2 separate regions of the Homo sapiens genome follow, and region 2 is linked to region 1. Evidence: fine-mapped expression QTL. A gene starts in region 1. The other region holds a variant in brackets. All regions are shown on one strand. Distances are from middle to middle. Region 1 holds the start of SNED1 (sushi, nidogen and EGF like domains 1). Region 2 holds the start of SNED1-AS1 (SNED1 antisense RNA 1).

Evidence for each region.
Region 2: its variant is fine-mapped to the expression of SNED1 in tibial nerve (GTEx, PIP above 0.99). The same link has a PIP of 0.9 or more in breast and nucleus accumbens.

What each region holds. Positions count from the first base shown.
Region 1 is chr2:240,994,255-241,002,571 of GRCh38, reverse strand. It overlaps SNED1 (sushi, nidogen and EGF like domains 1), which reads right to left and starts at 3,954. Exons shown (of 32, transcript NM_001080437.3): 1 at 3,522-3,954. The coding sequence starts at 3,734. RefSeq lists a silencer at 3,903-4,322.
Region 2 is chr2:241,058,852-241,067,168 of GRCh38, reverse strand. It overlaps SNED1 (sushi, nidogen and EGF like domains 1), which reads right to left. Exons shown (of 32, transcript NM_001080437.3): 17 at 4,265-4,378; 18 at 3,469-3,582; 19 at 3,044-3,157; 20 at 2,212-2,325; 21 at 1,574-1,870. SNED1-AS1 (SNED1 antisense RNA 1) reads left to right here and starts at 3,051. Exons shown (of 3, transcript NR_187212.1): 1 at 3,051-3,089. It also overlaps a transcript of MTERF4 not described here. RefSeq lists a silencer at 2,943-3,102. The variant G/C (reference allele first, on the strand shown) is at 3,979.

The DNA of each region.
Region 1 (8,317 bases):
CTCCAGCCCCATTCCACTTCCCCAGGATCCCCTTCCATCTGCTTCCGTCACACCCAGGCAGCAGCAAGAAGGGCATGCTGATGAGGGGCAGGACCACCTTGGCCAAGCCCATAGCAGGGGGTGGGCCAGCCCGGGAACCTCAGTGAATAGGGCAGCCAAGGGGAAGCCCAGGACCCTCCTCCCAGCCAAGGGGCTCCTGCATTTGCTGGGGTGTTCCATGAGCTCAGAAGAGAGCAGAGATGGCAGTGATTTCTCCCCACATGTCTGCTCCCAGATCCACTCATGCGCAGGCCTCGGTCCCACTGAGACAGTCCCTGTGGGTCAGGGTGGATTTTCCAGATGGCTTGGAGCTGGCGACCACACAACCGTGACAGTGATGGGGTGTGTCACAGGTATGACCTGATGGGGGAGCTTCACCACACAGATGGGGAGACAGAGGCTCAGGGAGGAAATGACCAGGCAAAGGTCACAGGCTGCATGTGAACTCCCACACCAGAGCAGCTGCCCTGGGCTCCGTGTTCTGGGAGGGGTAGGGCCGGGACTGTGCCTGGATGGTAATGTTGTGCAGAGCCAGAGCCAGCAGACTTGCGGTGTGGCACGAAGCCTCAGGGCACAGAGTGGGGGTTTAGCCAGCACCAGCGAGGGTCAGTCTGACTGTCCACATTCCTCCTTCTTGCCTGCGGGCTCTGCAGGGCACCACCCACTCTTGACCCTCAAATCCTCCCTGCCTCTGCTCAGGGCTCTGTCGGGGGTCCTGATGCCAAAGAAACTGAGATCCTCCCATGGCCCAGAGACCATGCTGTGGATGGGGGCAGTGCTTGGAGCCAGGAGCTTCAGTGTAGGGGGCACCAGGAAGATTTCGTCTCTCATTCCCTGCACCTGCCCCTAGGAAACCACTCCACCTGCATAAGCCCCACAGACCGCGGCAAGCTCCGTCTTAATGCAGACACTGGCAGTTCCTGCATGGCAGGATAGCGGCAGCATGCCACACTCCTCAGCACGCCACACTCCTCGGCGCGCCACGCTCCTCGGCTGCATTATCTTTGTCTGTGTGTAGAACCTTAGCAATAAAATGCACTTTCAACACTTTTCAGAGCCTTACGACTTACCACACACATACAGCTACTATGACATGAGAAAGAAGCAAAACAATGGGTCCCTTCTGGAAAGGGGGCCACTCCATGTGTGGCAGAGCTGTCTTGCTAGGGCAGTAATCCATGTGCTATTTCTGATGAAGACAGAAGAAGCACCCATCTCATGCAAGAGCACTTCTAATTTCTACCTGTGACTTGCAGGCAGTGTCAGAGGGAGGCACATTCATTCATTCAGACAACAAGCCTACTCTTGGTCAAGCGACAGGCTGGGGGCGGAGGAGCGCAGAGGTCACTGCAGTGGGATGGGGGCTGGAGGGTCCTGGCTGGGCCTGACATGGGAGTCTGAGTCCAGGGCCAGCAGACACGAGGCCCCTATAGACTGGAGCTGGACAAGGGCCAGAGCCAGGGGCCTCAGAAGAGGGTCCGCTCGGCCTGGGTGGGCGTGGGAGGCCCCAGGCAGGTCCACTTCCTTCAGAACAAATGCCTCCCTTCTTTCCACCTGGCTTCAGCCCTAACCTGCTGCCAAGCACCCCTTTCTCTCTCCCTGCTTGACCACAGAGTCCGCACAGTTACTTCAGGCAAGGTGTCCTGGGCAACGCAGCCTCAAGCCTCCTGCTGAGCAAACAGAAAGGTGAAGTGCACTGCAGGCACTGTGTCCACATCGGCAAATGGTTTTCAAATAATATCTTTGTTTCAGGAAAAAGCTCCGATGGAGATAAATGTTTTGTTAGCAGCCAGAAGGTTCATTTCTGACGAAACCCTAGTTCTCCTAGCAGATCTTCCCACGTTAGAGCTGTTTCCCCTAGTTGCTCTGGCAAGGGCAGATGTTTTTGGTGAGGCTGTTAAGTGGGTTAACCATTTTAATAATATTTTCACCTGTGACTGTGAGTGGGAAAGCTGAGCCTGGCCCAAATGCTTAAGGAGCCTCTTGAGTTCTGTTCGGATGGTGCCAATGTGAGTGTCCCATACCTCAAGTGGACAGGCCTCCTCCAGCTCGGGCCAACGCTGAGCACCATTCTGTCCTACCCACTTCGTACTTCCAGGAGTCAGTCCCGTTCCTCTGTCCAAGTCCCGGTCCAGAGGGACTTTCAGGGGGTAGCACCGACAGCATGGCTGCCCCTCCCACCAGTCAGGTCACCCAGTGCTGCCACCGAGGTGGGGAGGCCTTCCTGAGCAGGTGTGGAAAACGCAGTGGGCGCTGTGGATGGTGTTGGCAGTTGTGGGGTGGGAGGCGCACTAGAGGGCATGTGGTGGAGGAGGCCCTGTGGATGGAGGTGGGGAGGGATGATGACAACCATGCAGAGGATGTGGATGGTGACGACGGGAAGCTGGGGACCATGGGGAAGGTGGTGGTGGAGGCAGTGCTGCTGGTGGTGGGGTTGAAGGAGGTGGTGTTGACGGAGGAGTTGGCAGTACAGGTGGTGTTACTCCGGGCAGCACAGATGGCAGAGGCGATGTGGCTGGCAGTGGGTTGAGGCTGGAGGTGGGCGAGGGTATGAGAGGGCTGATGGTGGAGGTGGCCGTGGTGACGGAGCTGGAGGGGACTCTACTTGAGGCTGGCCCAGCAGTTTTCTAGATATGATCTGGGGTGTTTCAGGGAACCACCAGGTACCAGTGCACCGTGGCCTACTCAGGGCGAGTGCTCCATGCAGTTACCAGGTGCATTTCATTCCCTGGGCTGCCATAAGGGCTTGGCCTGGGGTCACACTCTGGGAGCCATGGAGACAGAACCGGCACTCGGGCCTGTTCCTTCAGCTGAGCTGAGCCTGCTGTCATGAGTCCCTGGCCCCAGGAGTCCCACTGGGAGTCCTGTTTGGAGAGTCTGAGCCTGAGCGGCCAGCCCCCAGACTGCGGAGAGGACGGCAGGGAGGGGCAAGCCTGTTGCTAGCCCGCCTAGGAGGGTCAGCGAAGAAGCAGGCCCTGCCCTGAGCGCCTGGGCAAGGGGTCCAGCCTCCTGGCTCTGGGCCGCACTGGCGTCCACGGGGGGCGGGGCTGAAATGGCCCAAGGAGGGGCTGCAACCTTCGCAGGCCCGGCGCCCCACTTGGGAAACTGAGGCCCGGGAAGCCCGTGCCCACGGCCACATTGCCATGTGTGAAAACCAGGGCAGTACCAGGACCCCTGCTCTCCCCTGGGAATCAGGCGCCGGGAAGACGCGCTCGGCAGGTCTGGCAGGGGCCGGGGCGCCGCGCTCCACTCGCCCCCGCCTCGGTGCCCGGCGGCTGCCGCCCCCGCCCCGCCCGCGCGCCTCTCCCGCGGGCCGCTGTCCGGCCTTGGCCGCCGAGGAGGAAGCGCTGTCCTCATTCCACCTCGGGCCGCCCCGGTGCCAAGTGGCTGGCGGCGGCGGCGGGAGTCCGGGCCCGGCGGGCAGCGGCCGGGGCGCAGCTCCCTCCCCTCCCGGGCGCCCCGCGAGCCCGGGGGTTACTCACGTAGAGTCCGGAGTGCTCGGCACCGAAGAACGGGAAGGGCACCGAGAGCGGCCGCAGCCCCGAGCCGCCGTCGTCCTGCTTGGGGGTGACGGCGTCGCCGCGCTCGGCGCCGAACGGGTAGAAGTCGGCAAGGGCCACCGCGCCGCGCACCCCGCGCGCCCCAAGCCCCAGGGCCGCGGCCACCAGCAGCGCCCAGGCGACGCCGTGCCGCATCGCGGAGGTGTGCGGGCGGGACGGGGCGCTGGCGGAGCAGGGCGCTGGGGGACTAGGCTGCGCGCGGGGGTGGCCGGCAGGGCCAGGCGGGGTGCGGGGAGCGCGGGCGCGCCCGCTGGCCGCGCCGTCGGGGGCTCCGCGTCCCGCGCCCGTTCGGCCGGGCCGCGCTCTCGCCGCAGCTCCGCAGAGGAAAGCGCCGGGCGGGACCGCGTTCGGGGCCAGCCCCGCCCCTGGGGCCACGATTTAAATATCCAGCCCGGCGGTCACTCGGGGGGGCGGGGCCATGCAAATCGGGCGTCTCTTAAAGCGCCAGGCCCCGTGGGAGGGCGCGGGCGCGCGGGGAGCTCAGTCCCCTGGCGTGGGCACAGGCAAGGTGAGGGCTCTGCGGGCGCGCGCCCTGTGGTGGGGCCATGCTCCGCCCTGGGTCCCTACCCTGGTGGAGGCGCCTGGGCCCTCAGTGCCGTCCTGGGACAGACCTGTGTCCCTAAGGCCTGAGACGCTGGGCCCGCCCTGAAGGCGTGTCATCACGCGGGGGGCGGGAGGGGACCCTGGCCAGGCAGTGCCTGAATGAACCCGTTCCGTGCTGCCCCCTTCCCAGCCCTGAGCATGGGGACGCCAGGCTTCCAGCCACAGGGGCAGACTAACCCCGGAGCCCACTCCCTGCCTGGGTCTGTGTGAGGAAGAGCCCGGGCCGGAGACTAGGAGGCATGGAACAAAGTGTTTGCATCTGCGTGGCCGCATCAGGAGAAATTCCTGGGAGGCTCGGGACCTCGGGGCGACCCCTGGGTAAAGCAAACCCTCCGTGGGGAAGACTGACCCACTCAGGCCCTGGGGGCAAGTGCGTGCATGACACCGGCCTTGGCAGGTGGGGGCAGGACTCTGAGTCCCAGTATTTGAATTCAGGGTCCCCACCCTGTGGCCTGCCAGCCCTGCCCCCTGTCTCTTGGGCTGCTGGCCTGGGCTGCCTGTCTGTCCTTCCTCAGGGCCTCAGCCGGGACCACCTCTATGTCCCCAGGCCCATGGCAGGGTCTGATTCCTGGAACTCACCCGGCCCACCGTGGTCTCTTCTCTTAGATCCTGGTGTTGGGTGGTGTTGGCTGCGTGCCACACTGGGGCCCCCAAAGATAAGAGTGCACCCCTCGAAGACAAGCAGGAAAGGCCGGGCTGATGGTAACTGCATCTACCACTGAGGTGCTGGGTGGTTTTTTGTTTGTCTTTGCGTTTGTATCTTCTGAAATATCTCAAGTGAGCACGTGTTGTTTTTCAGTGAGAGCCAGGCACAGTCAATGTTATTTTTAAGAAGCAGCGGAGGGTTCTCTGCGTGTGACTGGGTGTTGCCGGTTCTCACAGATCCTGCACTTGGTGTTTTCACTCAGAGGTTCATGACCCTTTAGACTTGGTGTCAGGGCCGGGTGCAGAATTGTTAAGGAGGAGCTGACCCTGCACTGGCACCTCCTGAAAGCTTGCCCCTGGCGCCTCTCCCACCCTGCATGGGGTGGCAATTCTGTTTGCAGAGAGGCAAACTGGGCCTGGGAGGGGAAGGGCTCTGTCCCGCAGTTAGCCCTTAGGTCACCGTCCCAGCTTTCAGAGCTCCAGGACAGCAGCACAGCCATGGTTCCAGGGCCAGAAAGGTCAAGGCCTCCTGTCTTTGGAGGGAGGCACCAGAGAGGGCGTGGAACTGTAGAATCCCTACTTGAGGCCGGCTCTCGGTGAGAGCCTGGCAAGGAGAGACATGTCTCCACGCACATGCACACACGTCCACGCACACATGCATACTTATTCACATGCACGGAGGCAGCATATGCCCATACGTGGGGCCTCAAGAACATGCTTTAACCCCTTCCTCAGCCCAGCCCTGGCCTCCCTGGTCAGGGAGGGCTGCTCCCACCTCTGGCTGGCACAGGCCGTGGAGTCAGGACAAGGCCCCATGTAGCAGCGTTGGGAACAGAGCTGCCAGGCGTCACCGTGGCGGGAATCAGGGAGAACGCTTTTCTATTTGTCTTTTTTCTAGAAAAACCTGGCAGCCCTCTACCCTCTTTTCAGTGCATTTGGGGCCTGGCTGGAAGGCCCCTCCGGTGAGTTTGCGAAGGTGGGAGGCGGCAGTGCCAACCCCAGGGCAGGATTTCTCCGCTGAAGAGGTGTTGTCATGGGGACGTGAGGCTTTGACCCCCACTAGGGCTGGCCCACCTCCTGCCCTGTCCCTACTACCCATCCACTTCCCACCACATGCTCCTGCTCTGCTCTCAGAGCCCAGCCTGGGGTGCTGCCTCCCAGCCAGCTGCCCAGGCCAGGCGCCCTTCTCCCCACTGCTGACCTTCTCTTGAGCACACAAGACAGGGACCTGGGTAACAACCCATTTCTGGGCTGGGTTTGGGTCAACTTGGGGGCAGGGCCGCCCAGGGCACCTTGGGGCACACAGTGGCACTCAGTGGCTGCACCGAGTGGAGGCCTGTTTCTTCAGGCGGGTGGGCTGGTGGGCCTCACGGGGGTCGCTGAGCAGTGCTGGAAACGCTCAGGCCCGTCCTCGTCCCAGAGAGTCAGAGCTCATGGGCCTGGGGCGTGGCTGGCAGTGGGCCAGACCCTGCTCATGGCCCAGAGAGGCCACACTTCCTCGGGCCTGTACCCTGCTGACCAGCCTCGGCCTGCACCCTGTGCAGATTTTCAGCCGGGCCCGGGGAGCTGGGGGTTAACAAAAGGCCCCGCTGCTGCTGGGCATTACATTTCATTAAAAAAAAAAAAAACAAAAAAAAAACAACACAACTCTGCAGGCAAAAAAGAGAAAAAAAAATGTTTTTCTCAGGTGCTAAAAATATTATCAGGAAATACTTTTCAGCAATGTGCTGTTTTAGGCTCCCCTCTGGACTCAAGGGCGCCTTTGTCTCTGCCACAGAAAATCCACATTTATCAAAACCAAAATTGTTTTATCAAGCAGGCTCATGTTCTGTGGCCAGGAAACCCGAGCCTCCCCAACCGGCCTGTGACATTTTAATTTAGGGCCTGAGCGTGTGTGCAATTTAGATGGGGTGCCCCGGGAGCTGCCCTCAGGATGCCCCAGGACTCGGGGCTCCACGCAGGCCAAGGTGGGGGTGCCCTCCCCAACCTGCACCTGGTTGGCTGGGCCTGTTTGGTCTTCACAGGGTGGAAGATCCTGGGGGTTCAGGCCTGAGCTGCCAGGGGCAGGGGCTGGCTGGCTGTAGCCCACCCTAACTTTCTCTCCTTCTCTCCCAGAAGTGGCAGGTGGAGTGCAGGTCCCCTGCCCCAGAAGCGCTGATCCCAAGTAAACCTCCACATGCTCCGGAATGAGGCCAGGAGGTCACAGGGACCAAGGGCCGCTCCACCTGCTCACCTGGTCACTGTCCTGTGTGGCTGGTTGGGGTCTTGGTGCAGTTGGCCCTGAGGGAGTGTGGGGGCCATGCAGCCTGCCCTGTACCTCCTCTTCTCATGCACACGGAGCCGCACACACATTGACTCCCATGACGGGACTTCTGTGGTTGCTCTTAGGGAAACGATGGGACTGGGGTTCAACACTTCCTTCCCAGGATGTTCACTGCTGCGTGGGCTCAGGCATCGGCTCTCCCTGTCCTGGGGATGACGAGACCCTGCCTCCCGTTGAGAGCCTTGTCCATCTCCTGAGTGCCCAAGACAGGACAGAGCCCCATTCTCTGTGGGCTCCAGGATGGCAGGGACAGCCAGCAGTGGAGGGACACTCAGGCCCAGGGTCCTCCGATGCCCCGGAGCTTCCGCAGCAAAAAAACCATGCTCTGAGACGTTTTTAGTGATTCGGGAAAACTCTAACGGTATTGTGTCAAGCAAAAGTTTTAAAAAATAGTACTCTGAGTAGCATCCACGCTATGGCCTCAACCGTCCTAAGCACACGTGTGCTAGAAAAAGGGAGAGTTGGGTGTCACCTCGGGGCTCTGCAGGTCACAGATTATGGTGGTGGTTACATTCTCCTTTCTATGTTTCCCTGCTAACATTTTTTGCAATTAATTTGAAAAGTATGAATGTTTTGGAAGCCCAGATAAACAATGCCCTTGGTTCCAGCTGGCCGGCTTCCTGCCCCGGCTTCAGCCAACCAAAGCTTGTGCTTCCCTCAACCTGGGGTGCTTCAGAGGGCTGGCCTGTCCTTGGGTGCCGCCGTCTGCGTTCAACATGGCCCCTCCTCCAGTGCCCCCTCCCCAGGGGGCCTTCCTCTCCCATTTGTCCCCTCCCTGTGTTGGTCTGCAACCCCTGGATGCCTGCAAAGGGTGCTGCCCCCGGACCCAGGCACCTGAGGGCCTGTCAGAGCGTCGGAGCTTCCTGGCCAGAGGCTGGATGGGACCCTCCAACAGCCCCTGCGTGCCCCACATTCCTCGGCGAGCCTCAAGGGTGGCAGGAATCCGAAGGGATTTTGTGTTCTGTCTCAGACAGGAGCTGGGCCCCTGCCTGCATCCCTGCCTTGTGTGGGGGAGGGTCTCCTGGCTTTCGGAAACCTCAGGCACATTTATCACCTCTGCCCACCGGAGAGGGCAGGCAGAGGAAGAGCCAGACCATGGAGGCCTCCAAGGTCGCAAGCGTATGTGTGGCTCCAGCTCCATGAGGTG
Region 2 (8,317 bases), 65 kb before region 1:
TCCACCCACCATGGCTGGCTGGAGCCCCAACTCTGCAGCGGGCAGGGCGGGCTCTGTCTTCACTCCAGATACCTTCCGAGGGCAGATCTCACATGGGGCGGCCTTGCAGGTGCTTCTTCCTAAAACAGCCCAGGCGAGCCACCCCTACTCAGCCCCTGGCAGCTCCTGCTGACACCTGCTCAGTGCCACCCGCACATGCGCCCAGGCTCTCCACTGGCCGAGGTGTGCTCTGTGTCCTTGCTGTGTTGGGAACTCCAGCCCCTTGGTGGTCAACTCCTGCAGGACAGGCCCTTGTGGGCCTCTGGGTGGGCTCAAGCTGCCTTGAATGCCTTCTCCTGTCCCTCAATGCCCTTGGCATTGGCATCAAGCTAGGGCCCAGGTGTGGCCAGGAGGCTTTCCTCCTGTGAGAACCGCCGAGCTCCTCCCCACCTACCCGCCATGCTACCCATAGGTTTCACCAAACTCACGTGGCCGCCCCGCAGGGCCCTGCTGGATGCTTAGGCCTCCCTGAAGCCCTGGCCACCCACCCACCCATCCATCCATCACGCCACTTCGCAGCAGTCTGTGCTCTCAGCACCTTTTCCTCTTTCCTCGAGCCTCTAGCACCCCTTCCCCATTCTTGCTCCTGTGTCTGGAGGCCACAGGCATGTTGGGTGAGAGTCCCATGGCCCCATGGCCCTGCACCCCACTTGGTTCCTGCCCAGCCTGTTCCGAGATCCCCTGTGCTCTAGCTGATGCGGCCGGGCTCCGTGGAAGGCCAGCCCTCTGCTTTCTTCCGGCCCTGCCCCTGTCCGTCCACTGCCATGTTCTAGGGCTCCTTTCTCCTTCCCAGAATCCCTCCCAGCAGCACACAAGCCCGCTAAGCCCTGACGCCTTCCCTAGAGCGCTCAGCATCTTCTGCTCCCCGACACGGCAACAACCCCACAGGCTGTGCACAACCCGGGCCTCCCCTGCAATCTTGGTGGCTCAGGCTCTGAGGAGGCTCCTCCTAGGACCCCCTCTTCAGGGGTCACATCTGGTCACAGCTTTCAGTGCCAGCTCCAGGTGGAGGCTCTGGGTCTGTCATTCCATCTAGGGCCTGCCCCACGGCTCTTCCCGATTGAGCCACCGATGCCTCCCCTTAGCACACCTCAGCGCCTACATATCCCTGTGAGCAGGTGCCTCTTTCAAACTCTCCCCAGGCCTTCAGAGCACCCCAGAGTCCCAGCCCCCCCAAGCCCACCCCCGCGGCCCCTGTCTCCCACACTGGCTCCTTCTAGGGACCCTTTTGGGAAGCCCCCATTCCTCCCCAGTCCCACTTCCTAGCTCCATGCCTGGGGGTTGTGCTGCTCCCACTCTTGGCTCGATTCTATGCGCCCCAATCCCATGCCTGTATCTTGTGGACCCAAGGCCACTCCCACACAGCTCTGTCTCCAGCAGGGCGGTGCCTCCAACCCCCAGCTCAGCTGTCTGTCTTGCTGCTGCAAGAACTAGGAGGGTGGACGGCATGACAGCCGCCCTGCAGGTGCCGGGGCCAGCGCTGCCCTCGAGGGGCAGGGGCTGGGCAGGGACGGCCAGGCTCGGGGACACTCACGCGTGCGGGCCAGCAGCACGGCAGGCCTGCTGATGTCATTCTTGTTGTTACTGTTTCGCTTCACTGAGAAGACGGAGATGTTGTAGGCCCTGCCGGCCGCCAGGGCCTGGAGCTGGTGCGAGGAGCGGGTCCTGTCCACAAAGTCTGTGCGGCGGTAGGAGCCGTCGGAGGAGACGTAGGTGACCGCGTAGCCATCAAGCATCTGCCTGGCGGCTGGACCATTGGGCGGGTTCCAGGAGATAGAGACCCCACTCTCCTCCACTCTCTCCATCTTGAGGGCCGTCGGTGGGAAGAGCTCTTCAGGGTTTGGGTCAAAACAAGGGGAGGGGACTGGTCAGCCGTTAGCTATGCATGCCTGGCTCCCGTCGGCGGCTCAGCCGGGTCTGGCTCTTGGGCCTGACACAGCCATCGCTGGCAGAGTCCTTCTTTGTCCCTGGCCACGTACCTCCAGGAGGGTCACACTTTTGAATGTGTGACCGTGTTTCAAGCCCACCGGGGGATTTTATCCCCTCCCTGTTCCTCAGGGAAGGGGCCTGGGCAAGCAGCGGCCAGACGCTCTGCCCTTGGAGACCGTTGGGCCCTCTAGGGAGAGGGGACCCCCTCGTGGCTCCCTCACTGGAGGCGCCCTCGCCACCCACCTTTGGCGCAGTCCTCGCCCGTGTAGCCCACTTTGCAGGTGCAGCTGTGGGAGCCGTTGCTGGCCAGGCAATAGCCACGGCCCCCACAGGGGCTGGAGAAGCAGGGGTCACTCACTGAGGGGAGAAAAAGTGGCAGTGTATGTTGGGGCGTGGCCAGGGGTCCCTGCTCCAGCCCCGCCCTTGCTCCTGGGGCACTGGGTCCCTCCTGCGTGGGTGTGGAGGGGCGGGGGGCACAGGACAGCTACTGCCTCCCTTCGGTTCTGCCACCTCCACTGCCCTGCGGGGCCCAACCCAGCAGCTCCTCCACCCTCCACAGCGGAGTGCCACCAGCCGGACTGGCTGAGGGGAGGAGACACTGGATCAGGACAGGACAGGCCACCACCCCAGTGACAGTCCTGCTTGAGGAGGGGAGGTCAGTGGTCAGGGAAGCCTCATCAGGAGGTATCCCACTGGGGGCTGATTAGGGAGAATGTTCCAGATGGAAGGACAGCCAGGGGCCAGACCTGGGTGTGCAAGAAACTTGGCCTGTCCAAGGGCAGCAGGGCCTATGTGTGGACGTGAGGCCCCACCCCTGGGTGTGTCCTCGGGTGAAGAGGGGTGTCTGGGGGGTGAGCGCAGGAGATGGGGAGGTTTAGAAGGCACCATTGTGGGACCAAGGGAGACAGGCGGAGGGCCACTGGCCTGAGAAGGGGACTTCCAAGGCGGCGGGCAGAGGGCGGGGAGCAGGCGGGCAGAGGGCGGGGAGCAGGCGGGCAGAGGGCGGGCAGCAGGCGGGCAGAGGGCGGGGAGCAGGCGGGCAGAGGGCGGGGAGCAGGCAGGCCTGCCGCCCTACCTGTCTCGCAGTGGTAGCCGAAGAAGCTCTCTGGGCAGACGCACAGGTAGGCCCCGCCGCCGCTCTCACACCGGCCTCCATGCTGGCAGGGGCTGGAGTCGCAGGCGTCCACCTCTGGAGAACACCCAGAGAGTGGGCCCAAGCTGCAAGGGGGGAGTCTGGGGGAGGGAGGAGAGGACAGCGGGAAGAAGGGAAAGGAGGAGTCTAGGGGCGGAGGCCAGGAGAGAGGGGCAGTGGGCAGGTCCCGCCCCTCAGCCCTCCCCAGCACCCTCACCTCCACCCCTCCCTCCCAAGGTGGCCGCAGCCCTGGGGGTCCCTCTCCCCAGGTGGCCTGCCCAGCAGGGAATGTGGGGATGCCCCACCTCCTCTCTGATCTTCCAGAGGCCCAGGCTCTGCATGTGGGGCCCACTGGAGGGAGCCCCTACCTGTCTCACAGTGGACTCCAACGAAGCCTGCAGGGCACCGGCAGACATAGGCCCCTGGGAGGTTCCTGCAGGACCCTCCATTTCTGCACGGGTGAGCTCGGCACTCATCCCTCTCTGCACAGAGAAGGGGTGTCAAGGGTGTTGCTGGCTCAAGTCTGAGGCGCCCACATGCCCCCAGGATTCCGTGCATTTCCTGGGGCTTCAGTTACCCCTTTCCCAGCTGGGAGCAACTACTCAGGACATGTGCTTTTTCTTCCATCAGCCCCAAACCCACCCCTCCTCGGGAGGCGTGCCACCTCCACTGCCTGCTGGCAAAGCCCCACCTCCAGGCCATGCCTTCCTCCAGGCCACTCCGCAATGGGAGGCTCCCCAGGGCCACGACTGGGCACGGCTCCCTGGGCCTTGCCCTCCCTGGAGCCTGCGTTTCTCAGGCTTAGAGCCCTAGCGAGGTACAAGAGTGTGCAGGGCTCATGGGGCAGGCCTCCCCTCCCTCCACTGGCTGGAAGCACC[G/C]ACCAGGTGTCAGAGACTGTGACCTGCCCTCTCCGACGCCCACCTTCTCTGCGCCCTGAAGCCAGGCCAGCATTTCTCAGCTGGGCTCTCAGTCTCCCCTGGGGAGGTGCAGGAAGGGATATTTGTAAAATCTTTGTCTTGGATGTCAGAGCTGGCAGGGGCCCGAGAAAGCATGCAGTGGCCACCCTGGCCATCCAGACAGAGACCTGTCCGGGGGACCCAGTGCCTCAGGCACATGGCCAGTGTGCTGCAGCTGTCACCCCAGCGGGGCCAGGGCCCCTCTTACCCAGCTCACAGTGGGCGCCCTCATAGCCTGTGCTGCAGAGGCACAGGTACCCAGCAACGCGGTCCTGACAAGAGCCCCCATGCAGGCACGGCTGAGACCGGCACTCATCGATTTCTGAGAGGAGAGAGCCCAAGAATAAAGCAATGTGGCCACGATTAAGCCAAATTAAGATGCACATAAACTAGTCCTGAGGGGCCAGACAGAATTCGATGATACATCATCAGTGGTTGGAAAGGCCAGAGACCAGGGCTGGATATCCTTGGAGTCGGGGCAGGGCAGTGGGCCTGGGGCTCAGTGCCTGGCTGTGTCTGTGAAGCAGCAGGGCGGGCTTGAAACCACCCCAGGGCTCCCAGAAGACGCTGTGGGACTTAATTCCAGTGGTTCAGGCCGACAGGACAAAGGCCTCAGGGGTTTGACAGAAAATGTCTCATGTCCCATCTTGCCATTTCAATGTATAATAGTCACCTGTGAAACCAGTCCATCTGGGACAAATCTTGGTTTTAAATGATTCACCACAGCTTTCTTTTCAAGCGGGAGTTGTGCTCCTGAATTTAAATATTTATTTTTTTAAAGTTTAATTTCATGCTTAAAAAGTAAATAAATGGTAATGACTTAGTGACATCTGGGACTAGCAGCCACCCCGGCAGCCAGAATGCTGAATGGGCTCATCCGACCGTGTACCCTTCTCTTCCCTTGCGATAAGAATCTCTGGGTTTATAATTTCCTTGTCTTTAAAAACTAGGTTTTCTGGCAGTAAAATATGTAATTAAAATTAGCTTAAAAATTTTATAAATTGCCTAAACAATAGTGAATGTTTTTGTTGTTTATGAACTTTATTCATAGTACATCATGATATATATTGTCTTCTCTCAGCATTATATGAAGAAGAGAACTCCACACTGTAGGTCACTGTGGTTCATAGATTTTCACTGCTGAATAACATTACACAGTGTGGTTATATCATACTTCACCCATTCTCACTGGCTGGGTCTTTGGGTTGGTTCTAGACTTTTTCCTTTTTTTGTTTTCTTTTTTTCTTTTTTTTTTTTTGGGGGGATGGAGTTTCGCTCGTTGCCCAGGCTGGAGTGCAGTGGCATGATCTTGGCTCACCACAACCTCCGCCTCCCGAGTAGCTGGGACTAAAGGCGCCCACCACCATGCCCGACTAATTTTTGTATTTTTAGTAGAGATGGGGTTTCACTATGTTGGCCAGGCTGGTCTCGAACTCCTGACTTCGTGATCCGCCTGCCTCAGCCTCCCAAAGTGCTGGGATTACAGGCATGAGTCTACGCCCAGCCTAGACTTTTTGCTTTTACAAAAAATGTTGCTGTGTATATTCTTTCCCATCTCCTGGTGCAGACGTGAAGTTTTTCTTAGGTTTATACCCAGAAGTGCAATTGCTGGAACACAGTTGACGTAAATGAGCAACAGTGGGCAGATTGCTCAACAGGCAGAGTGCCACATTGTTTTCAAAGTGCTTCTAGCAATTTATACTCTTGCCAGCAATGCATAAGAAATCTTGTTGATCCACATTCTCACCGGTATAGGCTTTTCAGACTTCTGAAAATTTACCAGCTGAATGTACCTCATTGCACTTTTGATTTGCATTTCCCTGATTACTAATGAAATAGAATATTTCTTTTTATGTTTGTTGGCCTTTTGTATCTCTTCTTCCATGAAATGCCTATGCATGTTTTTTTTTCTATTTTCCTATTAGGTTGTTTTCTCATTGATTTATCAGAGTTCTTCATGTAGTCTTGAGACTATTTATCTCTTCTCCCAGTTTGTAGTTTAGATTTCACTTTCTTAAGGTTTATGGATTTAGGTTCTAATTTTCATATGGTCAAGTATGTTCATCATTTCTTTTTAAATTCTTTTTGTGGCTTAAGGAGTCTTTCACTACCCCAAAGTCAAAAATATATTTACCTATATTTTCCACACAAAATTATATAGTTTTTTTTGGTTGTTTTTTTTTGAGACAGGGTCTCACCCTGTCCCCCAAGCTGGAATGCAGCGGTGCAATCACAGTTCACTGCAGCTTTGAACTCCGGTTTCAAGTGATCTTCCCACCCTAGCCTCCTGAGTAGCTGGGACTACAGGTGCATGCCACTACGCCTGGTTAATTTTAGTTTATTTTTGTAGAGTTGGGGGTCTCTCTATGCTGCACAGGCTGGGCTCAAACAAAACTCCTGTCTTGGCCTCCCAAAGTGCTGGGATTATAGGCATGAGCCATGTGCCCGGCCCTGTATAGTTTTTTTTTAAAGAAACATTTAGGTCTTTAATCCACCTGGATTTAATTCCAGTGTATGAAAAATAGAGAACCAATATAATATTTTTCCAAGTACAAAACCATTGTATTCCAGCTCTCATGAATATTTTCTCATATGCTTTTGTATTTCTTTCTTTTAGAAGTTTATAGTTAGGGACGGGCATGGTGGCTCGCGCCTGTAATCCAGCACTTTGGGAGCCCAAGGCGGGTGGATCACCAGAGGTCAGGAGTTCAAGACCAGCCTGGCCAACATGGTGAAACCCCGTCTCTATTAGGAATACAAAAATTAGCTGGGTATGGTGGTGAGTGCCTGTAATCCCAGCTACTTGGGAGACTGAGGCAGGAGAATCGCTTGAACCAGGGAGGCGGAGGTTGCAGTGAGCCGAGATTGTGCCACTGCACTCCAGCCTGGGCAAGAGTGAGATTCTGTCTCAAAAAAAAAAAAAAAGTTTATAGTTTTAGCTTTTACATTTATGTTTATAGTTCCTTTTACGCATTTAAAAATTTATCATGTTTTTGATGCTATTAATGTAACACTTTCATTTCAAAGTGTTCACTGCTACAACAGGTTCTATATACTGACCCTGTATCCTGGGATCTAGTTGAATTCACTTGTTAGTTCTATAGCTTCTTTTGTAGAATTTCCTTAGGATTTTCTATGCATACAATCATGTGATCTCTAATTCTTTCTTCCTTTCCTTCCTTTTATTTCCTTTTCTTGTCATCTGGCACTGTCTAGGGCCTCCAGGAAAATGCTGGGAATACGTACTGAATGGACACCTTGCCTTGTACGGATTCCAGGTGGAGTCTTTCACCACTGAGTACACTGGTAGCTGAGGTTTTTAATGGATGTCCTTTATCAGGTTGAGGAAATTATCTTCTACTCTTAGTTGACTAAGAATTTTAAATACCAGTTGAATTTGTCAAATAATTTCCTGCATCTATTGAGATATATAGTTTTCTCTTTCATCTCCTAATATGATGAAGTACATTGATTGACATTAAAAGTTAGACCAACCTGTGTCCTTGAGAAAAATCCCACTTGGTCATGACTGTATCATTCTTTTATATAGTACTGAGCTTGACTTAGTAATATTTTGTTTGGATTGTTGTGTCTATGTTCTTGAGAGATACCAGTCTGTAACTTCAAATTTTGTAGTGTCTGTGTCTGGTTTTGGTATCAAGGTGAGTTGAGAAGTTATCAAATAAGTTGGGTATCAATTGAGTTTGGTATCAAATGAGAAGTGTTCTTCCCTCCTAGATTTTCTAAAAAATATGTAGCTCTTTCTAAAAGAGGTTGTACAAAGTTGGTATCATTCCTTTCTTAAACATTTGGTAGAATTCATCCGTGAAGCAATCTGACACAGCTGTTCTGAGGAAGGTTTTTAATTACAAATTAAGTGTAACAGATATAAGGCTGTATATGTTTTCTATTATTCTTGTGTCAGTTCTGGTAATTTGTCTTTCAGGGTATCCATTTCCCCTAAGTTGTCAGATACATTGGCCTAAAATTGCTCATAGGTGTTCTCTTGTCCTTTAAGTACTGGCAGGATCTTTAATGTTTAAAGGACTCCACTGTAAACACGAGGTAGGATCTCCTTTTCTATTTTGATCTTGCTAATTTCTCTCTTTTTTTCCTGATCAGTCTAGCTAGGGTTTATCAATGTTAATGATTTTTTTTTTTTTGAAACAGAGTCTTGCTGTGTCACCCAGGCTGGAGTGCAGTGGTGCGATCTTGGCTCACTGCAAGCTCCGCCTCCCAGGTTCACACCATTCTCCTGCCT